3 separate regions of the Homo sapiens genome follow, and regions 1 and 2 are each linked to region 3. Evidence: fine-mapped expression QTL. A gene starts in region 3. Each other region holds a variant in brackets. All regions are shown on one strand. Distances are from middle to middle. Region 1 has its middle 20 kb from the start of CPAP. Region 2 overlaps CPAP (centrosome assembly and centriole elongation protein). Region 3 holds the start of CPAP (centrosome assembly and centriole elongation protein).

What was found. PIP is the estimated chance that this variant, and not a neighbour inherited with it, causes the effect.
Region 1: its variant is the best candidate, but not a certain one, in a credible set for the expression of CPAP in lung (TOPMed, PIP 0.51).
Region 2: its variant is the best candidate, but not a certain one, in a credible set for the expression of CPAP in nucleus accumbens (GTEx, PIP 0.75).

Annotation. Positions count from the first base shown.
Region 1 is chr13:24,937,708-24,948,527 of GRCh38, reverse strand. It overlaps the pseudogene TPTE2P1 and the pseudogene SLC25A15P3. Among named protein-coding and RNA genes, the nearest start is that of CPAP, 20 kb to the right of the region's middle. The variant T/C (reference allele first, on the strand shown) is at 4,347.
Region 2 is chr13:24,895,983-24,906,802 of GRCh38, reverse strand. CPAP (centrosome assembly and centriole elongation protein) reads left to right here. Exons shown (of 17, transcript NM_018451.5): 7 at 1-1,457; 8 at 2,745-2,877; 9 at 7,219-7,384. Among named protein-coding and RNA genes, the nearest start is that of CPAP, 21 kb to the left of the region's middle. RefSeq lists an enhancer at 6,213-6,292. The variant A/T (reference allele first, on the strand shown) is at 4,359.
Region 3 is chr13:24,917,130-24,927,949 of GRCh38, reverse strand. CPAP (centrosome assembly and centriole elongation protein) reads left to right here and starts at 5,089. Exons shown (of 17, transcript NM_018451.5): 1 at 5,089-5,189. RefSeq lists enhancers at 4,142-5,043, 5,044-5,945.

The DNA.
Region 1 (10,820 bases), 21 kb before region 3:
CAGATGGTAGCTCGTTTTAAGTTCTTTGAGAAATCTCCAGACTGCTTTCCACAGTGACTGAACTAATTTACACTCCCACCAACGATGTATAAACGTTCCCTTTTCTCTGCAGCCTTGCCAGCATCTGTTGTTTTTGACTTTTTATTAATAGCCATTCTGACTAGTGTGAGAGGGTATCTCATTATGGTTTTGATTTGCACTTCTCTGACAATTCGTGAAGTGAAGCATTTTTCCAGATGCTCATTGGTCACTTGTATGTCTTCTTTTGAGAAGTATGTGTCATGTTCTTTCCACATTTTTAATGGGGCTATTTGGTTTCTGCATGTGGATTTGTGTAAGTTCCTTATAGATTCTGGATATTAGACCTTTGTTGAATGCATAGTTTGCAAATGTTTCCTCCTGTTCTGTGGGTTATCTGTTTGCTCTGTCGATCATTTCTCTTGCTGTGCCAAAGCACTTTAGCTTTATTAGGTCCCACTTGTCAATCTTTGTTGTTATTGCAATTGCTTTTGGGGACTTAGTTAAAAATTCTTTCCCAAGGCCAATGTCAAGAAGGGTATTTCTGAGGTTTTCTTCTAGGATTTTTATCACTTGAGGTCTTACATTTAAATCTTTAATCTATCTCCAGTTAATTATTGTATATGATGAAAGGTATGAGTCGAGTATCATTATTCTGCATATTGCTAACCAGTACCGCAACACCATTTATTGAATAGGGAGTCCTTCCCCTATTGCTTGTTTTTGTCAGCCTTGCAATATCAGATGACTGTAAGTGTAAGGCTTTATTCTGGGTTTTCTATTCTGTTCCATGGGCCTATATGTCTGCTTTTGTGCCAGTACCATGCTGTTTTGGATACTATAGCCTTATAGTTTGAAGCCTCTGGCTTTGCCCTTTTGCTTAGATTTGCTTAGGCTATTGAGGCCCTCTTTTGGTTTCATATGAATTTTAGAATACTTTTTTCTAATTCTGTGAAGAATGACATTGGTAGTTTGATAGAAATAGCACTGAATCTGTCAATTGTTTTGGGCAGTATGGTCATTTGAATGATACTGATTCTTCCAATCCATGAGCATGGAATGCTTTTCCATTTAATTGTGTTATCTCTGATTTCCTTCTGCAGTGTTTTGTAGTTCTTGTAGGGATCTTTCACATCCTTTGTTAGCTGTATTCCTAGTTATTTCATTTTCTTTGTCGCTACCATAAATGGGATTCTGTTCTTGATTTAACTCTCAGCCTGGACATTATTGGTGTATAGAAATGATGTTGATTTTTATACATTGGTTTCTTATCCTGAAACTTTGCTAAAGTTGTTTATCAGTTCTAGTAGCCTTTTGGCAGAGTCTTTGGTTTTCTGGGTATAGAATCATATCATCAGCAAAGAGAGGTAGTTTGACTCCTTCTTTTCCTATTTGGATGCCTATTCTTCCTTTCTCCTGTCTGAGTTCTCTAGGTAGGACTTCCAGTGCTATGTTGAATAGGAGTGGTGAGAGTGGGCATCATTGTCTTCCTCCATTTCTCATGGGAATTGTTTCCAACTTTTGCCCATTCAGTAGGTTGGTGGCTGTGAATTTGTCATAGATGGCTCTTATTATTTTGAGGTATGTTCCCTTGATGCCTAGTCTGTTGAGGTTTTTAATGTGAAGGGATGTTGGATTTTATCAAAATCTGTTTCTGCATCTATTGAGATGATGATATGGTTTTTGCTTTTAGTTCTGTTTATGTGGTGAATCACATTTATTGATTTGCATATGTTGAACCAGCCTTGCATCCCTGGACTGAAGCCTTCTTGATTGTGGTGTATTAACTTACTGATGTGCTGCTGGATTCTGTTTCCTAGTATTTGGTTAAGAATTTCTGTGTCTATGTTAATCAGAGTAATTGGCCTGAAGTTTTCTTTTTGTGTGTTTCTATGCCAGATTTTGGTATTAGGCTGATGCTGGCTTCATAGACTGAGTTAGGGAGGAGCCCCTCATCCTCAGTTCTTTGGAATAGTTTCAATAGAACTAGTACCAGTTCTTTGTACATCTGGTAGAATTCAGCTGTTGCTTCATCTGGTCCAGGGCTTTTCCTTGTTGGTAGATTTTATATTAATGATTTGATTTTGGAACTCGGTATTTGTCTATTTAAGGTTTCAATCTCTTTCTAATTCAATCTTGGGAGATTATATGTTTCCAAGAATTTATCCATTTCCTCTAGATTATCTAATTTGTGTGCCTAGAGTTGTTTGTAGTATTCTCTGAGGATCTTTTGTATTTCTGTGGGATTGTTTGTAATGTCATCTTTGTCATTTATGATTGTACTTATTTGCTTCTTCTCTTTTTTTCTTTGTTCAGCTGTCAGTCTATCCATCTTGTTTATTTTTTGAAAAACTAATTATTGGTTTCATTGATCTTTTGTGTGGATTTTTGCATCTAGTCTAAAAAAAAACAGCACTTCAAAAAGCACTTCATTCAGTGCTTCTTTAATTTTAGTTATTTCTCTTCTGCCAGCTTTGGAGTTAGTTTATTCTTTTTTCTAGTTCTCTTAAGTGCAAAGTAGGAATGTTAATTTGAGATATTTCTAACTTCTTGATGAAGGCATTTAGTGCTATAAACTTTCCTCTTAACACTGCTTTAGCTTCATCCCAGAGATTCTGGTATGTTGTGTCCCCATTTTCATTAATTGCAAAGAATTTTTTTATTTCTGCCTTAATTTAGATTTTCACCCAGGAGTTATTCAGGAGCAAATTATGTAATTTCCATGTACTTATGTAGTTTTGAGAGATCTTCTTGATACTGATTTCTATTTTTGTCTCACTGTGGTCAGAGTGTGTGCTTGGTATGATTTCAAACTTTTTGAATTTATTGAGGTTTGCTTTCTGGCCAATCACGTGGTTGATCTTAGAATATGTTCTCTGTGCACATGAGAATGTATCTTCTGTGTTTGTTGGACAAAGTGTTCTGTAGATGTCTATCAGGTCCAATTGGTCAACTGTCAAGTGCAAGTACGGAGTTTGTTAGTTTTCTGCCTCAATGATCTGTCTATTGCTGTCAGTGGGTTGTTGAAGTCTCCTGCTGTTATTGTGCGTCTAAATCTTTTTGTAGGCCAAGAAAAACTTGTTTTATGAATTTGGGTGCTCCAGTGTTGGGTGTGTACATATTTAGGCTAAGTCTTCTGGTTGAATTGTGCCCTTTATCATTCTATAAGGAATGCCCTTCTTTGTCCTTAGTTTTTATTAGTTAAAAATATGTTTTATTTGGCCAGGTGCAGTGGCTCATGCCTGTAATCCCAGCACTTTGGGAGGCTGAGGCGGGTGGATCATGAGGTCAGGAGTTCGAGGCCAGCCTGACCAACATGGTGAAATGCTGTCTGTACTAAAAATACAAAAATTAGCCAGGTGTGGTAGTGCAACCCTGTAATCCCACTTACTTGGGAGGCTGAGGCAGGAGAATTTCTTGAACCCGGGAGGCAGAGGTTGCAGTGAGCCAAGACTGCGCCACTGCACTCCAGACTGGACAAGAGAGTGAGACTCCATATTAAAAAAAAAAAAATCAACCACTTAGAATAGTACACATATTAAGTAGATCCTACATCTAGAATGGGTTAAGCAACCATTTATAAGCATCTTTATGAGAAATGATCACCTCTGGGTTTTTCTGGTAATATTTGAAATAAACATGGAACCAAACTGTATTTCCCTCAACACATAACTGTCCAAATTGAATGTGCAAGTAGAGGTTTATGTAAAAGCCCTGACAGAACTGTACTCAGTCTTTTGAATTAGGTGCATAAGGCTACTGACCACTCTCTATTTTACCAAGGGAAAGAGCAGTGACTTCTCTATTTCAGTACAATTATGGGCAGAAATGACATGATGTAAAATAGAGGTTCTTCCAAACAAGTTAAGATATAGGGTATAAGAGAAGACAGAAAGGCAAAATTCCCAAGAAATCAGAATGACTTCACGCTGGTCTTGTACTACAAGAAACCCTGAAATGAACTGTAGTCCTCAAACACCTGTGCTTGGCTCAGGCCCTCCAAGACACTTCAGTATGCTTCCAACTGGCTCATCATCAAATTCCTGCTATATTCGTAGGCCAAAAAGAGTGCTCCATTGTCAGGGAATGCTCGAATCATAGTAGGTTTCAGTCCAGAATATAAGGCCATTATTCCTAGAAGACAAAAGGGCAATCAAAGACTGTAACAATCCCTCCTTTGGGGACACCCACGCAGCTGCATAGCACAGGTATATTTACACATGCAAATCCAGGCAAGAGTGCTAAAAACCAACAAGTCATGGATGGATGCGTTCCCAGCTTTCCCTAAATAGACCAACAGAAACAAGAACAAGTATCAGGTCTCCTGG[T/C]GAAACTGACTGATGCTCAGGTAACATACCCCAATTCCATGCTTGGTTAACTCTTAGTATATGGATGGGGCAGAGTTGAGGCCTGAGACAGCCAGACAGAGGCAACCATGGAGACAGAGGTGGCCACAGCTTTGCAGCTTCACCTGGGCAGTGGCAAGAGCACCAACCTTGAGGTTGGAGACTGGTTTATAGTATTAGTACTGCCCAGGGTGGTCATGAAGATTGAATTAGATAAGGGAGGTATAAGTACTTTGTAAAACTTCACGTTATACAAATTTAAGGGAGGATTACTATGAGTAATAGACAAGGTATCTGTGCTCTATTTGGGACACAAAGTTTCTGTGTTACTGTTCTCTTTCTTTTTACAATCAAAACAGAGAAGTTCATATCTCAGATTTTAAGATGTATACTAGATGCTGGAAAAACAGGTGTTTACTCACCTTCATTTTTCACAACATTTATAAAGGTTCTGATAAATCCTGCCTGTTTTCCAGACATGGAAAGAACTTGAATTCTTTATTTGATACAATCCACTGGATATACCGCAAGCCAGAGGCAAATCCCGCCAACTCCCTCCACCACTTAACATCAAAGGGACAGGGCCTAGAGAAAAAAAAATAGCAAATGGTATTTTATCTCAAGAACAGCTGACGTGACATTCCCAGAGTTCAATGTAGTAATGGCTGCAGGTAGGTGAAAATAAAAATGCTAATGCTGCGGAAGAGTTCTTTGTGGAAACTGTCAAAGCTGTTGTTCCCAGGCTCTAAGAACACAAGGTTTTGTTTGGTAGCCCAGGTCTACCCCTGGGTCTTGCCAAGTACAAGAAGCTCTAGTGAGGGTTGTATTTCATTTGGTCACTGAGGTGTGGAGGGCTGGCCCACACGAACCAGCAGGCCTCCAGCTGAGTGGCAACCCTTTACGGTGGGGGGAAGACAGGCCAAACGCAATCTACATCTTTTTTCAACTTTCTCACTCTTAAGTATTTTAATAGCCCCGATTCTTCCTTTACCATTAAAAGCCAAAATTGTTTTTATTAAACATAGCAGATAAGTCTGGGAGCTTGTCTAACCCCAGAATAGATTCAACATGCTGAGGGAGATGGTAAGAATAGGTAAATGCATTTGCATTAAGTGGAGTGTGATGGTGTTTGCTCCCTGCAGGTATGGTTTCTGTGGATTCTCTGCTCTTTGTGCTCTCCTCCCCACATTGGTGGCTCCATCTGGCACAGGGAAGCTTCTGGATGTCAGAAGGTAACATGTTGGCAGGCAGTTGATAGCACCCCACCCTCCAGGCTTGATAATTTCCTTAGGACAGGGACTGAAGCAGTACATCCCAAACTTTCTTACTGGAATAAAGTTTGCTAATTTTTCTGTCTTCTTGGGCAATCGTATCCAGTCCCAAGCCTTTTAAAAAAACAAGCTATACCCATCCTGGTGGAATTCCTGCCTATAAAAGGGGACACCTTCAGACCTCCAGGCACCTCCAGAAAACACTGCTGTGCGCAAGGAACAAAATTCAGTTGTGTGGGACATGCAGCTGCAATCGGGTTTCAAACTCCCATTGCTGATGATCAAGTTAAAATACGAATGTGCTGGATTAAATGCTTTATTCAGCTTATCTGCATCTAGGTTATCTAAACTACGCAGCCACTTAAACCATTCTGTCACCTCTTCTCTTGGAATACTTAATTATTTTAATGTAATTCAGATCTCATTTTATCCTAGCCCAGCAGCACCTGGGAGAGAATGACCCTGAATTAATCATAGTAAAATCATATTAAATTATATTCCACTGATTCAGAATTGGAGATAATTTGGCAATTAAAGGGAGAAGTGTGTCATTCCTCTCCTGGAAGAAATGAACAGTAATGATGGGATCACAGAGATCGTACATACAAGGGCCCAATACACACACGCCCACCAGCAAACGGCTTACATACCAGGCTCCCAACCATACTGTTTCAATTTCTATCTTTCAAACTAACTGTAAATTACAAACGTGGTACCCAAATACCTGTATGCGCATAAATAGGAAAAGGTAAACTCTTTTTTTTTTTTTTTTTTTTTTTTTTAGGTGGATTCTCACTCTGTCACCCAGGCTGGAGTGTAGTGGCACAATCTTTGCTCACTTCAACCTCTGCCTTCTGCGTTCGAGCAATTCTCCTGCCTCAGCCTCCCGAGTAACTGGGATTACAGGCATGTACCACCACATCTGGCTAATTTTTGTATTTTTAGTAGAGACGAGGTTTCACCATATTGGCCAGGCTGGTCTTGAACTCCTGACCTCAAGTGGTCCACCTGCCTCGGCCTTCCAAAGTGCTGAGATTACAGGCTTGAGCAACCTTGCCCAGCCAAAAGTAAACTTTTTAATTCTATCACAATATGTTCTAGATCTTTGACAGACTGAAAGACATAAAATGTCAAATGGTGAGACTCTGTCACGTGGATAAACACCCTCCTACTGCAGATACAGAACTGAGCCCAAGAGCATTCACGTGCTGGTGAGAGGTGGCCAGGGGCAGGCAGATGGTTGCACCATTCTCAGGGTCAGCATCTTCCCCAGTGTGGCACGGGGGAGGGGAGGGGGCCCGGGGCCTGGGAGGCTGTAGCCTAAAGGCATGCGGTGGGCGAGAGACTACTGGGCAGGCCCCTGCCAGCCTTCAGTTCCCTGAGCATCTGGTGCCAGGACGCTCCTTGTGGGCTCTGCCCTGGGAGAAGTGCCCTTGCCCAGTGCTCCTTATCAGTGTCTGTGATGCGCTGTCTCCAGTCCTCCTCATTAGCATACCTTGGCCGACCTTTGGCTCATGGAAAAACACTTTGCTCTTCTCTGAACAATTTCTTTTTCACAGCTGAGCAAATGACTGATGAGGTGACCACACTCATGACCATACCCACCCGTTGGTGGTGGGTGGGGGTGGACTGGATGAGGACAGCATTGGGCAACACTCCTTCTGGCCTCCCCACTGCAGGGAGCCGCAAGTACTATGAGAGTCCTGTGGGACGCCAGGGTAGTCCAGGGTTTCCCTTTGGGCAATCAGCCTTCCAACCTCTCCTCCTACTTCTGGCCTCTGGAGAACTAAATTACTACCATGAACTTCCCATTCTACCTGTGCCTCAGCCCAAGGGTCCTGCTCTTCCTGCATGTTCAAGCTGATCTTTCTAGGGAGTAGCCTGCACTGTGCCAGCACTACCCCCTTGTCACAGGCAGCACCTCCCTGTGCCGGGGGAGCCTCAGTCTGCCCTTGGGCTCAGGCCCCTAGGCTCAAGTTAGCTGACATTCCCAGGAAATCCTACAACTTCTCCTTTCCTTTCATGGCTCTGAGACACAGTCCATTATCAGTCTCATTGTAAAAGACACTTCTAAAGAGTGTCCTCCTTTCTTTCCCAACACTGGCAGGGACAGTAAGTGGTGTTTCCTGGGAGATGCTACGGTGTTATTTTTGCACTACAAGGGCTCTGAAGACTGCCAGGCTTGAAGTGAAGAACCACGTCACCTGCCTATCCCAGCCAGGTGACAGTGGACAAGGGGCTTCACCTCTGAGCTGTTTTCCAGCTGTACTGGGCACATTCCTCCTCTCACCCTGACTCACAAGGTGTTAGCAATAATGGACACTCCTCTATCTTCTGCCACACTCTGAACAATACTTCACTTCCATCAAATGGATTCATCCCAAAGGTAATGCCCATCGCTTCTGGAGGGAGAAAGGTAATGTTTTCATACCACTTTCATTTGATCTCATTTAGAAGGTACTTGAGTAATAGAGAAGACTGGGTTTTCTCTGGGATTATACGTAGGCATTTCTTAATGACTGGGACATGTTCTGAAAAATGTGTCATTACACAATTTCATCACTGTGCTATCATAGAACACACACACCCGACCCTAGATGGCATAGCCTACTCCACACCTAGGCTGTACGGTATGGCCTGTTGCTGAAGTCTACACACCTGTACAGCATGTTACTGTACTGGATACTGTAGGCAACTGTAACACAGTGGTATTTGTGTATCTAAATGTATATAAACACAGAAAAGGTATAGTAAAAGATGGTATAATCTCATGGGACCACTATCAGATAAACCATCCATCACCAACAGAAGCATGGTTATGAGACACAGGACTGTACCTGCAGCCGCCACCATGAGGTCAATGGCAGCCTGGATAGTGGAACCCACTCTTCTGCTGGTCTCATGGAAGGCAGCTCTCTGGAGCTTATGACAGGCACCACATATCCCTGGGGGGAGGCAAGAGTTCACCATTAGTCCAAGTCTGCAGCCTCCCATTGTCTAGGCCTGCAGCCAAATTACTGAACCTAAACTTCTGGGAGCCATGAACTGGGCTCTACGTTGTTCCAAAGGAAATGGGCTCAAGGTATCAGTGCGGCTTAGCAATTGTCCCCTAAAAAGCTCACAGATCAAAAACCTCCACTGTGTATCAATGCTACAGCCACCAGCAGCACTTCAAGTGACCTTTCTGAAAACTGAAAAAATGAACACCAAATAAGTAAGCCAACCACAGATGTACTAACCCACATCAGGCTTGCTTTTTTAGAGGCCTGTGCTGAGCCATCAACTGAACAGGCTCAGTTCTAAATTGAGACAGCAGCCTGTGCTGGGTGCCTAAGGGGATGTCTTTGAGATACAGTTGGTCTGGAAAGAAGCATCCAGGCAGCCAAGGGTGGGAGCTGTACCCCGGGATCACAAACACCTTGGGGAATGCCTGCTCTACCTGCAGTTTGGCCCCTTTGCCTCTACAGCTGGGAGTCTTCATCTGTACAAGGTGAATAATAAAAATATTATAAAACAAAGGCAGTCACAAATAGCCCCAACACCATGCCATGGGGGCTACAAAGTCCGGCAGAGTCAAAGGAATGAGACAAGACAATAGTACATAAAGTGGGTCCAGGGCACTCAGGGCTGTGAAGGCCCTGAGCTCTGGGAGCCCACACTATTTATTGGTGATAAAACAAAGAAGCAGGGGGTGAGGATGTGCTGGTCAAAAGGAAGTGGTCGCATCAAGTGTTTAATTTATAGCTGTGTCGGTTTAGCATTTCCTTTGAAGCATATGGAACATGTTCTGCTACTCGAGATAATGTTGAATATGTCCTTATAACTCAAGATACAATCAATTTATGATCCTGGGAGAGCAAGAAGCAAGGAGCCAGCAAGTCTGGGCACATTCCAGAGGCCACGAGGGGTTTTATGTCCTGAGTCGTGGATTCCATCCAAGCCATGAGGGGTTTTATGCCCTGGGCTTAGGTTGTAGTGCAGCGGGGCAGCCTTCCACCCTTAAGCACAGAGGCTGGTGTTGCACAGGCCACAAGAGGTTTTAAACTCTGGACCCAGGACATGTTCCAAGACTCTTTATATTATGTCAGATAGCAAGTGTTGCCTCAGCTTTTCTCCCAACAATTGGACTGATGGGATGCTCCACTGTGCACAAGCATCATGGGTTCTTAGAACAAGGCCCTGCACAAGCACCAAATATGTTCCTGTCACCACAGTCCACTAGCCCTTCAACTATAATCGTGCACAGGAGTCGCCTGGGGGCCTTGCTAAATAAAAATGCAGCTTCTGATTCAATAGTCTCAAACAGGACCAGAGATTCTGCCTGTCTTGATGAGTTCTCGAGTGAGGCAGACAATGCCAGTTCACAGACTCACACTTTGAGATACAGCACCTGGGCCATTGTATTCTAATGTGCTTGATAACCTGGAGCACCTATTAAATATCCAAGTTGTCAGGACTTTCTTCTGGAAATCTTGATTCAGTATGTTTTGTTTGGAGCCTTAGATGTTTGGGAAAACTAGAATTTCTTTCTTTCCCTTTAGACAAAAGTCAACTACTGCTGAGGCATGGGCTTAATAAATGTTGACTAAAATATCCAACTCAACAACCAATCCTGTATAATTTTCAAACTGTGTCAGTAACTTGCCAGGTCCAACCTGCAGACCCTGGCCACATGACGGGTGAAGAAATGCACTCAGACACAGGTATCCCATGAAACAGCAGGCTAGGGGACCGGCAGCTCCCAGACACCAAGGAGGGTGCTGTAAAGAGTCAGCAGCCACAGCCCTGACAGGCTGGGGCTCCAGGCATTTATTCAGTACAGATTTAATGACAAAGGTCTCAAGTAAATACGACTAGAGGGTAATTAACATCGCTGACCTCCGGAGTAGAGAGCAGTCATGCACCTGCAAATGATCAAAGGTCTTAGGACCACATGAGTAAACAAGCTATTTAGATAAAATCCTCTACATTCCTATGTATCTATGCCCTAAGCTTTTAAGAGAGTTCAGCTGTCTTCAGCCAAAACTTTTACTGAAGCTACGCAAACCTCCCAGCCTTCCAAGAAGTTTTGTGTCTATTTCCTACATCTTAATTTTTATAATTTCTCCCACAACCCTGACAGATCCCCTACAAAAGACCATGTTTCTTCTCAGCTTGCTCAGTCCAGCTGAGCCAGCTTTCCACT
Region 2 (10,820 bases), 21 kb after region 3:
GTTTAAAATGGATAGACAGCAACTCCAGCGGAAAACCGCTCTTAAAAATAAAGAGCTGTGTGCAGACAACCCTATCCTTAAAAAGGACAGTAAAGCTAGAACCAAGAGTGGTTCTGTCACCCTCAGTCAGAAGCCGAAAATGCTGAAGTGTAGTAACAGGAAAAGTCTTTCTCCGTCAGGATTGAAAATACAGACGGGGAAGAAATGTGATGGGCAGTTTAGAGACCAGATCAAATTTGAAAACAAAGTCACATCTAATAATAAAGAAAATGTAACTGAGTGTCCAAAACCTTGCGATACTGGCTGCACAGGGTGGAATAAGACACAAGGTAAAGACAGACTTCCTCTTTCAACAGGGCCGGCCAGCCGGCTGGCTGCTAAGAGCCCCATAAGGGAGACCATGAAAGAGTCTGAATCTTCTCTTGACGTTTCTCTTCAGAAAAAGTTAGAGACTTGGGAACGAGAAAAGGAAAAGGAAAATTTGGAATTAGATGAATTTTTGTTTTTAGAACAAGCTGCTGATGAAATATCATTTTCTAGTAATTCCTCATTTGTACTGAAAATCTTAGAAAGGGATCAACAGATCTGCAAAGGTCACCGGATGTCTTCCACCCCTGTCAAAGCTGTGCCACAGAAGACAAATCCGGCAGATCCCATTAGTCATTGTAACCGCAGTGAGGATTTGGACCACACTGCACGTGAGAAGGAGAGTGAGTGTGAAGTCGCACCCAAACAACTTCATTCATTGTCCTCAGCTGATGAATTGAGGGAACAGCCTTGTAAAATCAGGAAAGCCGTCCAAAAGAGCACTTCTGAAAATCAGACTGAATGGAATGCACGTGACGATGAAGGTGTTCCAAATAGTGACAGTAGCACTGACTCTGAGGAACAGCTTGATGTTACCATAAAACCATCGACTGAGGATAGAGAGAGGGGCATCAGCAGCAGAGAGGATAGCCCACAAGTCTGTGATGATAAGGGGCCTTTTAAGGACACCAGGACCCAAGAAGATAAAAGGAGAGATGTTGATCTGGATTTGTCTGATAAAGATTACAGTAGCGATGAGTCTATCATGGAAAGCATAAAACATAAAGTGTCTGAGCCCTCGAGATCCTCATCCCTAAGTCTGAGTAAAATGGACTTTGATGATGAAAGAACTTGGACTGACCTTGAAGAGAATTTGTGTAACCATGATGTTGTTCTTGGGAATGAATCCACTTATGGGACGCCGCAGACATGCTACCCTAATAATGAAATAGGTATCCTGGACAAAACAATAAAAAGGAAGATTGCACCAGTCAAGAGGGGAGAAGACTTGAGCAAGTCCAGGAGGAGCAGAAGTCCTCCTACATCGGAGCTGATGATGAAATTCTTTCCTTCTTTGAAACCAAAACCAAAGTCAGATTCACACTTGGGAAATGAACTCAAGTTAAACATAAGTCAAGACCAACCACCTGGTGAGTCAGAGCATTATAAAATATGTATCAGAATGTTAGAAATTTAACATTAATCAGTATGCTGTCAGAATGCTTAAAATCCTAACTTTCCTTATTGCTCAATAGAATTAAGTCAAATTAATGGGTGATTTGTAAAAATTTGATTTATTTTATGGGTCTATATGAGGCTTTAAAATTAATTAGTTTTTAATAAAGTGAGATAACATCAAAGCTTCTACGTTTCCTTTCTTCCCCAGACCTGGTTCAAGTACCCCTTCCTAGAGGTACCAGTATTACCATTTCGTTTGTGTATTCTAAAGAGTCCGTGCATATAAAAGCATATGTGTCAGTTTGTATATAATTACCTTTCTATACAAATGAAAAGACTCTTTTTGTATACTGTCCTGCACCTTGCTTATGATAAATTTTGAAGATTGTTCTAACGCATGTACACACCTACCTCATTCCATTTAACGGATGTGTAGTATTTCTGTTGATGTAACGGACTTTTTAAACTCACCCTGAAAGATTCCTTTCCATTATATTATATTATAAACTAGCAGAGCATAGGTGCTTTAAAATAGAAATTAAAATAGAAATTATAACGTTAATTTTCAAAAATTCTGATTTTAAAAGTAATTTTTTTGTACAAAGTTTGGAAGCTTAAAAAGCATAGAAGCAAAAATATTTACAACTTAACTACCCAAAAGTAACTGCTATGCCATTTTGGGATATTTCATTCCAGTCATTTTTTCTATGTAGTTTTAATATGACAGAGTTGTATAACTTAGCTCATTTCTTTAGCCTTGTGGATCACATTTAGTTTCTAAAAAAGTACTAATTGATAAAAATGCTTGAAGGACAGAAGCACTGGCTATTTTACATTTTAAATAGCAAATTTGATAAAGGGAAAACAATTTGCATTTATTTGATTAATAGTAGGGGTAAACTTTGATTTTGGTGTTGATTAGCTCTTCAGATCTCTTGTGGATTACTTATTCTTAAGCTATTTATATATATTCGTCTTTGAAAAATTGATTTGAATGATTTCTTTTTATGTATCATGTTGATTCCTTGTCAGGTCGATACTCTTTTGAGGTAGATTAATTCTTCCATAAATTCCCACTGATTTCCTCAGGAAAGTTAGGTTTAATTTTTTTTCCTTTTCATGTTTGAAGCATTGTTTCTAATGCATTTTAATAGCACAGATGTTTGCCATATTCTTGGCTCTTAGTGTTACTAGCTAGCTAGTGTTTTTGCTGCAGTAATGCCTTTTTTGAAGTTCAGTATTTATGGCCTATTTCATAGGTGACAATGCTCGATCCCAGGTTTTGAGAGAGAAAATTATTGAATTGGAAACAGAAATAGAAAAGTTTAAAGCTGAGAACGCATCTTTAGCTAAACTTCGCATTGAACGAGAAAGTGCCTTGGAAAAACTCAGGTACGTTTGGGTCTGTAAGTTGGGAAAAAATATGCAGTGACTCAGTTATACCTTTAAGACCATCTATAAACAGTCTGAAACAATTTAAATCAGTCAAACAAATATAATTGAAAAGGAGGTGAAATCTGTATCATATAAGTTTTTTTTACTGAATAAAATGACCCAGGGTAGTCAATGATGTGTACAAAGGGGAATTTTTCTTAGTGGAGAGATCATAAATTAAAATTTGAAAAACAGTTTGGAGCTATGGTACCTTCAAGTGGTACTTTGGCTAGTTAGTGTATTGGTTTCTCTGGGCTGCTGTAACAAAGTACCAGCAACTGGGTGGCTTTAAACAATAGAAATGTATTTTCTTGTGATTCTGGAGGCTGTAAGTCCAAAGTCCGGGCATCAGCAAGGCGGGCCATGCTGGCTCCTCCAGCTTCTGGTGGTTTCAGGCACACGTTGGTATTTCTTGGATTGCAGCTACATCACTCCAGTCTCTGCCTCTGTGGTCACATGGCCATCTTCCCTCTGTGTGTGTCTTCACATGGCATTCTCCTCTGTGTGTGTTTGTCTTGGTGCCTCTTTTAAGGATAGGGTCATATTGGTTTAAGGGCCCACCCTACTCCAGTATAACGTCATCTTAACTGGCATCTTAATTGTATCTGCAAAGGCACTATTCACAGGGATTGGGACTTCAACATATTGTTTTAGAGGACACAACTCCACCTACAGCAGTCGATAGTATGACATATCGTCTCCTACCCTAGGTCATGATCTTACCTGACTTTATTGGTTAGCAAAACTTGAACTGAACTTACATGAGGCTATTTATATATGTTATATTTATTATTTCTCTCTATATAAATTTTACGTAGACATATTTTTTAATTGTACTTGTGAATAGTACTAAGTTCTGTTGCAGGAACATACTAGTACTTTTTATTCCAGGTGTTGCTCTGGGTCTTGTTGGGGATATTATATGTCACATACACACCGTATTTCTTTGTTTTTTGGTATTTGTTATTTTAATGTTTGAGGAGAAATTCATACAACTGTAGTTCCCATGGCTGCCTGCTGCGGGATGGGATCTAGGGGATGGTAGCTGCTATGCAAATGCTGAAATTCACCCAAATTTCCCAGCCTCTTTGTTCTTTAGCACTCCCCAGGATGCTGCAAGTCTTTCGTTAGTGTCCAGAGTTCCGAAGTGGTTGATTCTGACAGGTGCTGCTAGTTCAATAGCTGCTTTGGTGGAGGGACTGATTGTTGGAGCTTCCTACTCCACCATCTTCCTTAACATCTCTTCCGTATTTCTTTTCTAAAACCTGAAAAATATGAATTCTAAAGCACATCTGGCCCCTAAGTTCCAGATAAAGGTTTATAGACAGCTATTAATCCACTTAAAAAGGAAATTCGGTTACTATACTATAATCTGCAGTATGCTTAAAAATCAAATTCTGAAAATTTGTTACTTTTTAATGGAAACATCTTTGTTTTTC[A/T]GCTGATACATACTGTAAATGTATGCTTATCATAGTAGTTATGGGTAAAATGTGGAACTTATTCCAATCCGTTCTCCACCCAAGATCACTTTTAAAACGTCTCTGCTTCATTATTTCAAAACGGACATCTTTTTCTTTTAAAGAACATTTAAGTCATAAGATAATGGCTGGGTTTTTGTTTTTTTGTTGTTGTTTTTTGTTTTTTTTTAGCATTTTCCCTATTTCGGTTTTGCTTTGTTCTAAGCAAAATTCAGTCCTCGAATTTAGACATTGTGTTATCCTTCCCAATTGACAGATGAGGAAACTGATGCACTGAGAAGCAAGTTTTTTAAGTTTACCTCCTTAGTCAGTGACAGAGAGCCTCAGTGCCAGCCTAGGCAGTGTGGTTCAGTAGAGCCCTGGGCTCTACTGTATGGGCTCTTTAATCTGCTTTTTATTTTATTTTTATTTTTTTGAGACAGGGTCTGGCTTTATCACCCAGACTGGAGTACAATGGTACAATCTTGGCTCACTGCAACCTCTGCCTCCTGGGCTCAAACCATCCTCCACCTCAGCCTCCTGCGTAGCGGGGACTACAGGCACGCACCACCACGCCCAGCTAATTTTTGTATTTTTGGTAGATACGGGGTTTTGCCATGTTCCCCAGGCTGGTCTTGAACTCCTGGGCTCAAGTGATCCCCCTGCCTTGGCCTCCCAAAGTTCTGGGCTTACAGGCATGAGCTACGATGTCCAGCCTTGCTTTTCATTTCAACAACATAATAGACATCTTACCTATTAGCACGCCCTAGTCTTCTGTATCCTTGAAATGACTGTATTATATGAATGCCACTGTGACTAATCAGTTAATGGAAATTTAGCTTGTTTAGAATTTTCCACATTAGAAATTATTCTGCAGGGAATATCGTCATATGTATAAGACACTTTTTATTTAAAAATCTACTTCCTTGTGATAAATTTTAAGAATGTCCATTGCCCCAGTCAGCATCTGAGGCTTCTTCTCACCCCTTTCCCCATCACTGGAGTTGAGCGTTAGCAGTCTTTCAAATCTTGCCAACCTGATAATTATGCCATCTTTCACCTGCTAAAGTTTGTATTTATTTAATTATTGATAAAGTTGAGCATGCTTTTATATTTAGTGGTCATTTGTGTTTATTTTGTAACTTTCTTTGTGATCTTTGCTCATTTATCAGGATATTTAACTTTCTCAAATGTGCCACAAGTATTCCTCCCCCAGTGTTTGCTTTGACTATATGATTGTGTGCACACGGTCGACATTTTGAATAGTCAGTAAGAATGTCTTTTACCTTTTCTGTCTGCTCTCCCTCCAGTGAGGCAGGGAGAGACTTGTCCGGTCTCAAGGCTTTAAATGCTGTTACGCCCCAGATCCAGTTCTCTCGCCCACATCTCCTATCCCACTGCCTCGTTGTTCTCTCTACCTGGAGAGCTGATGAGTGTTTAAATTGATCATTTAGAAAAAGTGAGCTCCTGACGTTCCCTCCTGAACTTACTCTTCTCTTCTTCTTCCCTGTCTCAGCACATGAGTCTGCTCTTCCATTTGCCCAGTGGAAAATCTTGGAGTCATGCTTGAGTCTTCTCTTGCTCTCTCAGTCCATTTCTAACCCGACTGCTTCACTGCCTCAGAGCTGCCACTCTCCACCAGGACCCCATTGGCTTTCTCTGGTTATTAAATTCACTTCCTAGCAGGTCTCTCTGCTGCCCGCGTCTGTGCTCTTCACACACATCCAGAGCCAGCCTGCGTTTGGACGGTTCATCTGATCAAGGCCTCCTTCCTCTTTTTTTTTGAGATGGAGTTTCACTCTTGTTGCCCAGGCTGGTGTGCAATGGTGCGATCTCGGCTCACTGCAACCTCTACCTCCCAGGTGATTCTCTTGCCTCAGCCTCCCGAGTAGCTGGGATTACAGGCATTCGCCACCATGCCTGGCTAATTTTGTATTTTCAGTAAAGACGGGATTTCTCCATGTTGGTCAGGCTGGTCTCAAACTCCTGACCTCAGGTCCAGCTCCTGGCCTGATCTGCCCGCCTCGGCCTCCCAAAGTGCTGGAATTACAGGAGTGAGCCACCGTGCCTGGCCTGTCTCCTCCTTTTTTGACACCTTCTCCTGCTACCCATCCTTTGCTCACTGTGTTTTAGTCACACTGGCCTCCTGGCTGTTCTTTGAACACCTCAGGCACATTCTTGCCTCAGGGCCTTGGCACTTGCTGCTCCTTCTGCCTGTACTGCTGTGTGTGGACACCCTTGTGACTGGCTCTCTCATTTTCTTCAGGTTTCCTTCATGTTATCTCAGCAAGATAAGCCCTCACATACAACACAGTTTCACCCTCCCACTCTGATATTTTCTAAACTTCTTCCTTGCTTTATTTCTCTTTAATGCTTCTAATATTCCATGTACTTATTTATCTTTATTATCGTCTGTCTTCCAATAGAATGTAAGAAGCTGCATGGGAATACATTTTTTTTTTTTTGAGACAGAGTCTGTCTGTGTCGCCCAGGCTGAAATACAGTGGTGCGATCACAGCTCATTATAACCTTGAATTCCTGGGCTCAAGCCTGCCTCAGCCTCCCAGTGTTGGGATTATAGACTTGAGCCACTGTGCCCAGCTAGAATGTTTGTTTTTTTCACTGTGGTTTCCCCACTACTTCGTCGAATGCCTGATTCATCGTAGGCACCCAATGAATGCTTATTGGATGAATGCTTTAGTGAGTGGATTGGCTGTTATTTCAGGCCTATGGATTGAAGATGAATTCACTAGGACTAGCAGTTACTAGCCTGTCAGCAGGTTCTGCACATCACTGCACTGAGATGGTCTCCTTAGGTGATAACATAGTTTGGTCATTTTAGGAAAGAAATTGCAGACTTCGAACAACAGAAAGCAAAAGAATTAGCTCGAATAGAAGAGTTTAAAAAGGAGGAGATGAGGAAGCTACAAAAGGAACGTAAAGTTTTTGAAAAGTATACTACAGCTGCAAGAACTTTTCCAGATAAAAAGGAACGTGAAGAAATACAGGTATGCTAGTTCTTTATGTTATATTCATGTAAGTTAGTAAAGGTGACAATCTTGTAAGCATCTCAGAGTTATTTCTTATGTCAAAGCAAAACTGTGTATCAATCCATTATTCATTCATTCAGCAAATAATCTGTCTGAGACAGTGTATCAGGAATATCTTTGGTAGTCTGACTTTTAAAGAGTAGAAGATTTCAGTTCTTTTCTTACTAGTAAAGTCTTCCTAGAAAAGACCACGATAATGTCATGGATGAATTAACAAGCCTGGAGTTGGAAATTCACCAGCATTATGTTGTGTTAATCTTTTTGACCTACCACCCACCAAATATTGTTAGTTCTGTTCATTTATCATAATTTATGGCTGTAAATAACCAGGTGTTTAATTCTAAAACTTATAAACTGATAGGCCAGATTATCAGTCTTGTTCATTTCATAGTTAGAAGTGGACATGCTAAAACTATAAACCTTCTAGAAAAAAATAGGTGAATTTATTTACGACATTGGCATATACGAAGATTACTAAGAGAAGACACAACTAACTATAAAAGAAAAAATGGATATATTGGACTTCATCAAAGTTGAGACTTATCAAAAGAGAAATTTAAAATGGCTATCCATTGCTTCTAGTATAAAATGCACCTTCCACTGTCTGTATTTTAATTACTAGCATTTTTGAGTTCCATCCTTTGCTTTCTTCCTGTCTCATGCAGCCATCCTTGAGCAATCTCACCTGCACACGTACAGCTTGAGTTATTGAATAGCATGGTGTTCAGGGTCTTTAATTCTCCTTCTTTATTTTTGTGGGAAGAAACGTACCATTATGTTTTGGTTAATGCTTAGTTTATTAAATCTAATATGTTAGATGTTGACAATATTAAAACTTTTATTTCAAAAGGTAATATAAATATATTATCATTCAAAAGTTACAAAAAGATGGGTGGTGAAATTCCTCCCCAACCCTTGCTCCGGCCACCTATTCAGTTGTTTTTTGAAAATAATTTTTTATTATAGAAAGTTTCAAAAATACATAAAAGTAGCAAGAACAGAATGAATTCCCATATTTTACCAGTGATCATTTTGTCTAATTTCATCTCTCTCCCCGCTGTACTCTTTTTTTGCTTTTTAATCTGGAATTTAAAAAGTGAAATCCCAGACATCTCCTCATTTCACCTATACATAGTCAGTATGTTTCTCTGAGAAAGACACCTTTAAAAAATAAGACTATTGGCTGGGGGTGGTGGCTCACTCATGTAATCCCAACACTTTGGGAAGCCAAGGCAGGCAGATGGCTTGAGGTCAGGAGTTCGAGACCAGCCTGGCCAACATGGCAAATCTCCATCTCTACGAAAAATACAAAAAAATTAGCCGGGTGTCGTGGTGTGCCTGTAGTCCCAGGTACATGGGAGGCTGAGGCAGGAGAACCACTTGAACCCGGGAGGAGGAGGTTGCAGTAAGCCAAGATCATGCTACTGCACTCCAGCCTGGGTGACAGAGTGAGACTCCGTCCACGGGGCGGGGGACAATTATCATACCTTTGTCACACCTAACAAAATTTACAGTAATTCCTTAGTATCAAATAATACTTAGTCCATATTCAGATTTTCCAGTCGTTTGGTATCTTTTTACAGTTGATTTGTTTGCATTCTAATTCACCTCTCGAGGCAGCCAGTGTTATCAATCTCATATTTTCCCAGAGAAATTCTTAGAAAGTACATATATACATTCATGATGTTTTTTTAAACATTAATGATAGTTTACTGAAATCATTATGTATCTTAACAGAACATCTTTGTTCTTTGTTTTATTATTGTATAGAATTGTAATATGTGCCATAATTTACTCACCTAAGCACTATGTATTTCTGTTCTTTTTCTGTTTACAAGAATCCAAGAAGGGCTGTACTGAATAACTGCGCATATGTGACCTCTCACAATCATTCTCCCACTTATTCATTCAGCACATGGCTACTGAGTACCTGCTGTGTAGCAGGCATATACTGGCAATGCAGCAGTGAACAAAACAAATCAATCCCTGTCCTCATGTAGCTTATGTCCTGGAGTATATCTCTAGGATGGATTCCTACAAGTGAATTTTGAGGTTAAAGGTATGTACATTGATACAAATTGCCAGATTATCCCTCCATAAACATCATGCCAAATTTTAGTTCAGTTTTTTATTTTTATTTTTTGACACACTCTGTGGCCCAGACTGGAGTGCAGGGGCTCAATTTCAGCTCACTGCAACCTCCGTCTCCCAGATTCAAGCGATTCTCCTGCCTCAGCTCCCCAAGTAGCTGGGATTATAGGTGCCCACCACCATGGCTGGCTAATTAATTTTTAGTTCTACTAGCAATTCTTAGAGTGTTTTTTGTTCTCTACCTGATAGGTAAGAGGTTTAAAATTGATTTTAAACTTAATTGAATTTCTTTTAAACAATCTGAGTTATAGTTACAAATTTAGTATGGCTGTTTTTAGTGAACAAGACATATACTTGAACCAGTAGTTATAACAAATTCTGCTATCAGAAAACTTCACTAAATTAAAAACCATAGCCTAAAATACATGATGGGTTTGTCATTTCATTTTTCTTTCTGGATCTCCTAGGATTAGAGATAACCTTGCTGTGTTATGAAAATCTTACCAGATCCAAAGGGAAAAAATAAATAACCTCCTTAGACCACACAAGGTTGTGAGATTGATTGCTTTTTTTCCTTCTCTTTCTCATAGCTCTGATCCTGACTACTTCTTCCAAGGATTCAAACCAGAGCAAACACACTTCTTTTTGTTGTTGTACTTTGTTAGATGAATAACGTGGGTTTTCTTTTCTTGCAACTTGATGCCTTTCCCTCACAAGATGTGTCCTCTGATTCTCAGGCTCTGCAGTCCAGGCTGCTAGCTCTTATCCCTGTGTGGCTATTTCCATTTAAATTAATTAGAGGTAAATTGAAAATTCAGTTTCTCATTCCCATTAGCTACATTTCCAGGACTTAGTAGTAGCCACCTGTGGCTGGCTGGTGGCTGCCACACTGCACCATGCAGGACTGGGCACATCCTCACTGCTGGCAGCTCTGGGCTGTGCCCATTCAAGGGGCTTGTTGGGTGGCAAGGGGCTGGGCTGGTGAGTTGCCGTCCCTCTTCAGGAACTCATTCTTGAACTCTCGCCTTTGTTCGTTTATATGACTTCTGGTGTTGATTGAAGTTTGGACCCTGTTCGTACTTGGTTATCATGTGTAACCCTGGGTATTCATTATTTCTTGCTGGTTTTGGTGCAGTTCCTTTTCTTCCTTACACCATTTGGCTTATTCATAGTTCCCCGTATTTACCTTTCTTTTTACTTCTGTGCAAAAATATACTTTAAAAACAGATATATACTTAATAGAAAACAAACCTATGTTTATTGATACTCTATTAAATCATCAAAAAATTAAGGAGAGGGCATA
Region 3 (10,820 bases):
AACCTTCTGAGGTCTTACTGACTGGGATGTTAGTATATATCCAAGATATTTCCAAGGAGAGGACATCTGTACCTTTTCAGGTGCTATGATTAAGCCTGTTAACTGTGTATTCTTTTTGACAGAGGCATATAAATTCAAAAGTATTGGCTCCGTTGGGGCTGCCAGTAAGATGTCATCCATATAATGGATTATCTTGCAATTAGGAAATTCTTTTCTACTGGGGAGCAAAGCCTTATTTACACGATACTGACACATGGTAGGACTGTTCAGCATTCCTTGGGGAAGTACTTTCCAGTGAAATCAGGGAGCTGGGCCTTCATTATTGATAGCTGGTATTGTAAACGTAAATTTTTCTCTGTCCTGTTTTGCAAGGAGAATAGTATGAAAGCAGTCTTTTAAGTCAATAATGACTCAAAACTCGAGGAATCACTGCGGGGGGAAGGGAGCCCCTGTGGAAGGGGCCCCATAGGTTGCAAATTAGCATTGATAGCCTGTAAGTCATGCAGAACTCTCCATTTACCAGACTTTATGGGAATGACAAAAAATGGGTGAATTCCAAGGGCTGTCTGCTGGTTCTATATGGCTGGCTTTTAATTGTTCCTCAATTAATTCATGGGTTTGTTGTAATTTCTCTCCCTTTAAAGGTCACCGTTCTACCCAAATTGGATCTTGAGACAGCCATGTCAGGGGTAGGGGAGGACTTACAACAGTGGCCACTATTAGAAAGGGCTCTGCATAGTGACCCCCCCATTGGGCTAATAAGGTCCCATTCCCAAAGATGAACAGGGATGGGCATGATTAGAGGTTGTATAGTTGCTTTTCTTCCCTCCAAATCGTGACTTTAGAGGGCGTGCACTCTGCTTGGCTGTGTGCACTTCTCCAGTGCCGACAATTTTCTGTTTCTGAGTGACCCATATGTTTTACCCAGCCAATTGATTCTGGTTGGTTTGTCATTCACACAACTCATCATATTCTGCCATCCAGAGGAGGTATTGACTGGCCTCTAAAGTTGTTTGAGCTAGCACTGACCTGTCCCATGGGATCATAAGGAAGTTGTCTGCTATGGCCTCAATTAATCCTTTTGTAGATGGGCTAGCAGCTCTGTTTTCTCTAATGCTTTTTCTTATCTCTTTATAGGTGTTGAAAGTGATGGGCTCATATACCTGATTGCCGTGTTGATCTTGCATCACAGGGCAGGCCAAGAGCTCCCCTTCTAATGCCACTTGCCTAAGACAGGGTCCCGTAACTGTAGTGTATCCCTTGTCTTTTTTTCCAATTTATTGGAGGAGGGGGCTCAGGGAAACTCTGTCTCCTCTGTGGCACCTTTACCTAGTAACAGTGGGGCTGAGGGAGGAGGAGGCGGTCAGGTAGGTGGATGGTTCCTCTTCCCTTTCCTTTTTAGGCTCTTTTGTGTAGAGTGGGGCCAAAGCAGCCCTGATTAAGGCCCATAACGTTAAAGATGTTACTGGGACCCGTTTCCCTTGTGCATGATGTTATTTAAGATTTCCCCTCACTTGCTCCCAGAGTTCTTGGTCTAACGTGCCTTCTTCTGGGAACCATGGGTTATTGAAAACAACAGTTTGCATTAGGCCCCTTAACTGAGCCTCCGAGACCCAGGCTCTGCTAGCTTTAAGCAGCTGTTTCAATACTTACATATAGTGTTGCTGTTGAGCTGATAACTGTTGTCCCATGATGAAACCCTAGGTTGAAAATTCCCTCAAACTTGGAAATCCTGAGTGGGCACCAATTACTTACTTCCCGCACAGTCTCTTCACCTCATTTTTGGGGGTTCCATCGTGATCTGTTGCAGCATTCCTCACACAGGGCACCAGTTGCTGGGTCTGTCCCACAGACCCTGGCTGGACGATGGATGAAACGAGTACTCAGACGCAGATATGCAGTGTAAGAGCAGCTAGGGGACTGCTTGGCACTAGCGGCCAAAGAGTGAGCAGGCAAACAGCTGGAGCTGCTTGCTTTTATTCAGTATAGACATAATGCTGAAAGCCTGGAGCAAAAACAATCTGTGGGTAATTAACATTATTGTTCCCCTTTCAGGGAACGGGTCACGCATGTGGATGATCAAAGGTCAGCTCCTGGTCAATGTAAGTAAACAAGCCTATTTACGATAAATTCCCCTATGCTTCCTGGTACCTACTCCTTGCCCTCTGCCTCAGGGTCAGAAAACAGCTGCCTTCAGCTTATTCTCCCTGGAGGCTATGCAGAGGCTTCCGACTTTTCAGAAGGTCTGCTCCTTTCCCTATAGTTTCTCCCACCACTCTGACTGATCTATAGGAATCATTCCTTGGCCAGGCTAGCCCTGATGTCCTCCCCCACTTTTTTTCTTTTTAAGAGTTGGCGGTTTCACTCTGTTGCCCTGGCTGTAGTCTCGTGGTGTGATCATAACCTTCAACTCCTGGGCTGAAGTGATCCTCCTGCCTCAGCCTCCCAAGTATGTAGGGCTACAGGTGCACACCATCATACCTGGCTAACGTTCAAACGTCTAGGCTCAAATTATCCGCTTCAGTCTCCCAAAGTGCTGGGATTACAGGTGTGAGCCACTGCACCTGACATGTCCTCTCTGGATAGAGTGGACACTTGCTACCATCAGACCAGCAATGAAAAGCTGTCAACTCTTTGTCACTCAGATCAACTTTGATTAAAAGAATTATTACCAGCCAAGCACAGTGGCTCATGCCTGTAATTCCAGCACTTTCAGAGGCCAAGGTGAGAGGACTGCTTGAGCCTACGAGTTAGAGACCAGCCTGGGCAACAGAGTGAGACCCCTGTCTCCAAAAAAATAAATAATGAAAAAGAATTATTTCCAAATAATTTGGGAATACAATAAGTATTATTCTGTGTCTGGCACAGCATTTGACAAGACCCACAGAGCTAGGCTTTGGTAGACAAGAGTTCACCAACAGTTAAATTCTTTATAAAGATGAAAACACCTCCTGTTCATTGACTTTTTACTATGTGGAGGTTTTTTGCTACTTTTTCATACATAGTCTTTCTTTTAATGTAATCTTCTTGACAGTCCTATGAAGGTCTCATTATTATCCACCCCTGTTTTGCAGATGAGAAGACTGGTTTCAGAAAAGTTGAGTGCTGAAGACTACAAAGCTGTTTGTAAGTTATCAAGCTAGGATTTGATCCCAGGTCTGCCTGATAAATCCTGGACTCTTAACCATGACATAGGAGTGCCCTCTTGACTCCTATGATGGCATAAAGAATTGTATCAGAACGGGTAATCTGGCATTAAAACCCCTGTGCCACAACCGTTAGTCTAATTTTTCTCTACAGCACCATCTGAAGATGCAACAAGGATAGGAACCACTGATAAGGTAGAACATTTTATTGTCTGGCAGAGTAGAAGATGGAAGTTCCTCCCCACTAGCCTTTCCACCTTGTAATGGATTTGAACCCTTGAAGCTTAGTGGGCAGTTTTGAGAATTACATGGGCTACAGGTGAAAACTTACACATTATAACCTTAATTTAACAGCCAGTTAAGACTTGAGTGTGGTAAAAGATTCATTTATTTATTCAATCAACAAACAATGTGGCACTACATACTATATTAAAATAAAAACATACGAATAAAATATAGGCACAAAAATAGAGGATATTGCGACTATCCTTAAAGATACACATTTTAGGAAGAATGATGAGACTTTTGGGCATGCTTTCAAGCCAAAGGGCTATCATAAATGAAAAGGAAGATTGTTTGGGTCCTTGTCTGGCATCTTAAGTAGCTGTGTGATCTCGGAAGTCTCGGGCTTTAGCTTCCTCACCCACAGTGAAAATTAAAAAGAAAAATTGGGCCGGGCGCGGTGGCTCACGCCTGTAATTCCAGCACTTTGGGAGGCCGAGGCGGGCGGATCACGAGGTCAGAAGATCAAGACCATCCTGGCTAACACGGTGAAACCCCTTCTCTACTAAAAATAAAAATAAAAAAATTAGCCAGGCGTGGTGGCGGGCGCCTGTAATCCCAGCTACTCGGGAGGCTGAGGCAGGAGAATGGCGTGAACCCGGCAGGCAGAGCTTGCAGTGAGCGGAGATCGCGCCATTGTACTCCAGCCTGGGCAACAGAGCGAGACTCCATCTCAAAAAATAAAAATTAAAAAAAGAAAAGAAAAATTGAAAAAAGAAGCAAAACCGAAATCTTGATTTAGAGAAGTAGACTCTTTTTGAAGTAGAAAGCAAAACAAATTTTGGAGGACCAAATTTCTGTGAAATAGTTTTGTCTTTAGCAGTCGTTTGTTTCAGTTATAACGGTTATAAATGGCACTTCATTTGATTTCTTTAAACATTTTACTTGGCCTGCTGTTTAATCAGACATGGAAGCCAGGTATGTAGTACTGTGGTAACTCACGGTGCTGTAACTTCCTAGATTAAAGGGCCGTGGCAGTTAAAACGAAACAAAACAAAAAAATTTCTTGAATTCTGCACTGTCAGTATTCAAACTAGTTTCAGAATCTAATGGACACACTCTGCCAAACCACCGATTAGCCATTTGAGGAGAGATGAAAGATGCCTATTTTTGGAGTGAATTCTCATAGGGTTATTTTCGTCTTACGAAATGGTGTAGCGGACTGCCCTTTTTCTCCTTTACTAAGTCACCTCAGCCAAAGCGGAAAACAAAGAAAAAAACCAAACCAAACCAAAAAAACGACAAAATAGACCGTACGCAAATAGAAAAAAAAAAAACAAAACCCAAAACACCTCCTTTAAGCGTCGGTTGGGCTCTATGTTAGCTTTGACTCTCCGTGCTCCCTGCTTTGCTGGGAACACGGAGATCCATCGCTCCGTTAGGCGTTCCCTTTAGTTTTCTAAGTGTGGGAGCCTGGGGCGACGTCCACCACGGAAGGTCTCTCCCGGAAACGGTTTTCCGCCCCGCCACGCCGCCCGCCTACGTCGACCACTGGCCCGCTGCTGGTCGGAAGGCGGCGCGCAGTCCATCCCCCGCCGGGCAACGCCCGTCGCTGTGGCGTCACTGGGAGTTGTAGTTTCACTGGGCTCAGCGGTGCCTGCGCTTTAGCGCAGACGCGCGGGTGAGATCCTCACTTCCCACAGGACCTCGGGACGGGGGCGGGGCTCCGACAGAGGCGGCGATTGTGGCGGCCCATTTGTAAATGCTGCGGAGATTGAGGTGTCGGTTCGTGCTGCTGAGCTGCCCAGGCTTCACGGAGCGGTAATTTGTGGGCGAAAAGAGCGGAGGAGCTCTTTGTCCGCCGCCCTGCGCCGGAGATGGACGGCGGTGGGCGGGCAGGACTCTGCTCGGACCTCGGGGTTGGCTCGGCGGGGCGAGGAGGGAGCGGGGCGCCGGGACGCGCTCAGGCCCACGGGCGCGCTGAGGCCCACGGCAGTTCAGTGGCTTCGTTCATTCGCGCTGCTTTGTTCTTCGCAGAGCTGGGGAAGCCGGCCTCTCTGGGGTGTCTGTCTCTCTGACCTGGCTGTGGCGGAACTTGAGTTCCTGTGGGCAGCGCGGCAGCCGCAGTCCGCTGGAGCAGGGTGGTGAAGTAGCGTTGCTGGCTGTCCTAAGGGCCGGTCTTGCCCCAGCTTTGTCAAGGGCTTCTCTCTTGAAGCTTCGTGTGGATTCATGGCTTTCAAGAACGTGTTGTATTTTAGGGGACTGCTAAATCACTTCCCAGACCAACTAGTTACTTCTCACGGTCTAAGAGTGGCTTTGAATTTGCTGTTTGTATCCACTCTCCTCCCTCACCGTGCAGAGAATTTATCTTTTTTTCAATACTGCTTTAAAGAATGTTTACATAGCACTTTCTGGAGATTTCAAGGCTGTCAGTTTGTTACATTTTTTAAAAGTTTTATTGAGGTATAATTGCTATACAATAAAAATGGCACATGTTTAAATGCATTCCATTTGATGAGTTTGACATACACGTGCACCCGTGTCCTTCAGATTTTGATATCTGTAAAGTCTGAGTCCACATACTAATCCTATCTCGGCATATATATTATCAATGCTCCCTTTACCAAGACCTCAGTATCAATAATAAGTAGCAGGTTCTGGTGACGCTTTTTTTATACTTCATGCTGACATTAAATATATTTTTAGAATCGCGGTCATGAAATTGAAGGTATAGAAGGTGTGTTTGGTGGGGAGTTGGAGGAGGAGATGCAAAAGTCTGGCTGCTGCATCCCAAGACTGCTTGCACTTGTCAGTCTAGTAGGGAATTTTTCTAGTTTTCCATATTATGAAATGACCTTGTAGTTTGTCTCCCTTCTGAATTTGGATTTCGAAAGATTTTCTGCTAAGGTCATTGAAATTAAGCAAAGTTACGTGGTTGATTTTGAAAAAAAAAAAGTCATTACTTTTTTAGATTGGTTTCCTACTGAAAAACAATTTGCTTAGAAAAAGTTTTTACAAATTATTCAGGAATAACAGATATCCAGTAAAGTGCGCTAATCTTAAGTGTACAGCCTAAGTGTATCCACCCCCTGTATTAACCTTCCCAGTTGTTGAAGTCAAAAATTTGGAGATGAATCTCTTAAGTTTAACGTTTTATTTGGGAAGAAAGAATGGCGGTTCCAGGCGTACAGACCAGGTGGTCTTCAGTATGTCCAAAGAACAAAGAGAAAGCTGGAGGTTTTATAAAAAAGAGAATTGTTATATCTGTCGCTCTTCGAGAAAGTTCATTGGTTCTCCTAAGGTTCTGGGGAGGCAGCAGGTCCTACCGAGTGGGCCATGGTGGAGGGCAAAATTAGTCCTACAATTGCAGCAAGTTACCTCAGCATCTATAGATCAAATTGGTCTCGGGTTACAACCGGCAGTTTCAGCATACTGACTTATAGAGAATTCCATTCTTGGAGCAAAGTTGTGTGTCCTGAGTGCCTTTCCCTCTTGACTTCTTGATTGTTTAGTTGGCTATAAGAATGACTCAATTTGTATGATCAACTTTCACACAGACAGGACAACTCCCATTTTCCTGGATAACGACCAATATGCCATTTATAACTATGGGTTTATTTTGCCTGTTCTTCAGCTTCATATACATGGAAACATGGGCCAGGTGCGGTGGCTCATGCCTGTAATCCCAGCATTTTGGGAGGCTAAGCCAGGTGGATCACTTGAGGTCAGGAGTTTGAGAACAACCTGACTAACATAGTGAAACCCCGTCTCTACTAAAAATACAAAAAAAAAAAAAAGCCAGGTATGGTGGTGCATGCTTGTAGTCCCAGCTACTCTGGAGGCTGAGGTGGGTGAATCGCTTGAACCCGGGAGGCTGAGGTTGCAGTGAGCCAAGATCACACCACTGCACTCTAGCCTGGGCAACAGAGTGAGACTCCATCTCAAAAAAAAAAAAAAAAAAAGGAATCATATTTGTCTGATGTTCACACATCATTATTTATTTTTGTTACTGCCTGTGGCAGCAATTTTTGTTTTTTTAAATGCCTGAATAGCTGTGGTTCTCAAAGTGTGATACAGTGAGAAAATGTACATCACATTGGCATTTTTGTTTTTGGTTATTAAATGGTTGGCAGGCAATCATCTTGTTCCAAGAAAATCTTCAGTTGCAATTAATGGTACAGTAAGCCTTTATACAACTCTTCTACAACTCAACCAGGGAGCGATGGCAAAAACACAGTATCATTATGTTCACTGTCTTCTATGTCTTTTAACAGTTCTATAAACTGGCAGTTGATAGCATTTGTACATACTGAACAATTGTAACAACTATATTCATGATACTATTCGTGGATTATGCTTCAGAAAACCAAACACAAGAATTTTCAATGTGTATTATACAGGGGAATGAATCAGCGAGGGAAACAGCAGTCTCTTGTTGTAAAATCCCATTAAATTCAGATTTTTTGCCTTATAGAATGACACCATCTGTCATGATAGAAACTGATTTTTAGGCTGGGCGCAGTGACTCACACCTGTAATACCAGCACTTTGGGAGGCCGAAGCAGGAGGATGGCTTGAGCCTAGGAGTTCAAGATCAGCCTGGGCAACATAGGGACACCCTGTTTCTACAAAAAAATTAAAAAATAAAAAATAAGCTGGGCATGGTGACACATACCTGTAGGCCCAGCTACTCTGGAGGCTGAGATGGGAGGATCACCTAAGCACTGGAGGTTGAAGCTGCCGTGAGCCGTGATTGTGCCAATGCACTTCAGCCTGGGTGACATTGTGAGACCCTGTCTCAGAAAAAAAGAAAAAAAGTAATGTTTTCATATCTAGCTAAAATTCTTCTGTCAGACATAAAATACTGGGCGCAGGGGCTCACGCCTGTAATCCCAGCACTTTGGGAAGCCAAGGTGGGAGAATGGCTTGAGCCCAGGAGTTTGAGACCAGCATGGGCAACACAGGGGGACCACTCTTTACAAAAAATTAAAAGATGAGCTGGGTGTTGTGGTATATGCCTATGGTCCTGGCTACTCCGGAGGCTTGAGGTGGGAGGATCACTGGGGCCTGGGTGGTAGAGGCTCCACTGAGCCGTGATCATGCCACTGCACTCCAGCCTGGGTGACAGTGAGACCCTGTCTCAAGGAAAAAAAAAAAGATTAAAAAATATCCATGTCACAGGTTCAGTATCAGGCTTTGAATTGATATCATCTCTTTGTAAATTTAGATAATCTGTGAGATAAAACACACCTAAATTGGTGATTGGTCAGTCTCTCATTGCATTACTCAGATAAAGCTAAAGACAAGTGCTTGTAATTTTTTATGGCTTTGAACCTGGATGGTAATAGAAGGGTCTATGGACAATTGTTTGGTCACTTCGTTGAAAATTTTTCACTTTTTAGAAAATATCTTTAACCTTTTAATTAAAATATCTTTTTAAATCTCACAGTGTTCTAACAAAATTTCCTCAACTCAGATAACCTATTTACCTCCTCTTCATCTGAAAATAATTTTCTTTTTTCTTTTCATTTCTATCTCTTTCTCTCCCCTCACCCTCCTTCTTTCCAGGCTTTTTTATAACTGGCCAAAGTTAAAAGGTCAGATTCTGTTCAAAATCATAAAACTTTTTTTTTGTTGGCTATTTAGTTCTGACACAGGTGACTAATTACAGTTGACTCTCGAACAACATGAGTTTCAACTTTGTGGGTTCGCTTATGCTTGGATTTTCTTCCACTTCTGTCACCCTCGAGACAGCAAAACCAACCCTTTCTCTTCCTAAGCCTAGTCCAATGTGAGGACTAGTGACACAAAGACCTTTACTATCCATTAAGTGGAAGTGGATCATCATAAAGGTCTCCCTGCATATCTTTCATATGTTTATGTTTTTTAGACACAAAACATAAATGAAGTCTGAATACCTTTATGATGATTCATTTCCACTTAACCAATAGTAAATATGTATATTTTTTATTATTTTCTTAACTTTTCTTCTCTAGCTTACACTATTGTAAAAATACCATATATAATACACATAACATACAAAATATGTGTTAACTGTTATTGATAAGGCCTCCAGTCAACAGTAGGCTATTAGCAGTTAAGTTTTGGAGAAGTCAAAGTTACACTTAGATTTTCGGTTGCATGGGGAGTTGGTCCCCCTAACCCTTACTGTGTTGTTCAAGGGTCAACTGCATATCAATTTGTTTTTTTATTATTGAGAATAAACTTATAAAAAATTGCTGTGTTTTTGCTGAAAATGTCTCAATATTAGTTATCTTAAAATTTTTTAAAACTTTTTCTGTTCGCTTTGCCACAGCAAATTGTGGTTGCCATTTGATGTGAAACTTGTGAGGTGCCTCCTTCCAGTCTTTTTTCCTTCACTGTTCTGGTCATAGTACTAGCTTCTGCATCTCCACTTGAGTCTTCCATAGTGTAGCTTTGTTTTAAATTTTAAAAATTGTTCATACATCTTTTTCAAACTAGAAAAATATGCCATAATTAAAATACTAAACATTTCAACTTAATTCCTGCTATGGCTTGACTGTCCGCTCCAAAACTCCTGTTGGAAACTTAATTCCCAATGCAACAGTGTTGAGCGGTGAGAAATTTAAGAGGTGATTAGGTCATGAGGGCTCCACCCTAATGAATGGATTAATGCTGTTATCTCAGAAGTGGGTTACTGATTTCAGGGGTGGCTTTGTTATAAAAGAGAGCCTCTCTCTCACAGGCTGTTTTGCCTTTCTACTCTTCCCCCATGGGACAACACTTGCCAGTTGCCAATGCCATGCTCTTGTTTTTCCCAGCTCCAGAACTGTGAGAAATAAATTTCTTTATAAATTACCTAGTCTCTTCTCTGGTATTCTTTATAGCAGCAGAAAATGGACCAAGATAATTACCAATTACAATTTAAATAGATCACTGTAACTTGTACTGTTTTCATAAACTATTCAGATAGACACATAACAGTGTTATATCCATGTGTTGAAAAAAATTATTCAAACAGAATCAGTCCATTGACACTGATGAGATTGCAGACATGTTTCTTTGCAATCTGGGGGGTGATGCACACTGACATGGGCTTCAGTACAGCAGCATCTTATGCCATGCAGTGGTTAAAGTGAAATGCAGTCCTACCGAGAGAATAAAAGTGTTTAAGAGAAAAATATTTTGTACTTATTCACTTTTTAAATTTAATTAACTTTAATTAAAGTGGAAAATTCAGTTCTTCAGTCACATTAGCCACATTTCAAGTGCTCAGTAGCCATGTGACTATATGGTTGCCATACTAAATGCATAGGTCCATGTAATTGTAATTTATTTATTTATTTTTGAGACAGAGTGGCTCTGTCCCCCAGGCAGGAGTGCAGTGGCGCGATCTCGGCTCACTGCAAGATCTGCTGCCTCCCAGGTTCACGCCATCCTTCTGCCTCAGCCTCCCCGAGTAGCTGGGAC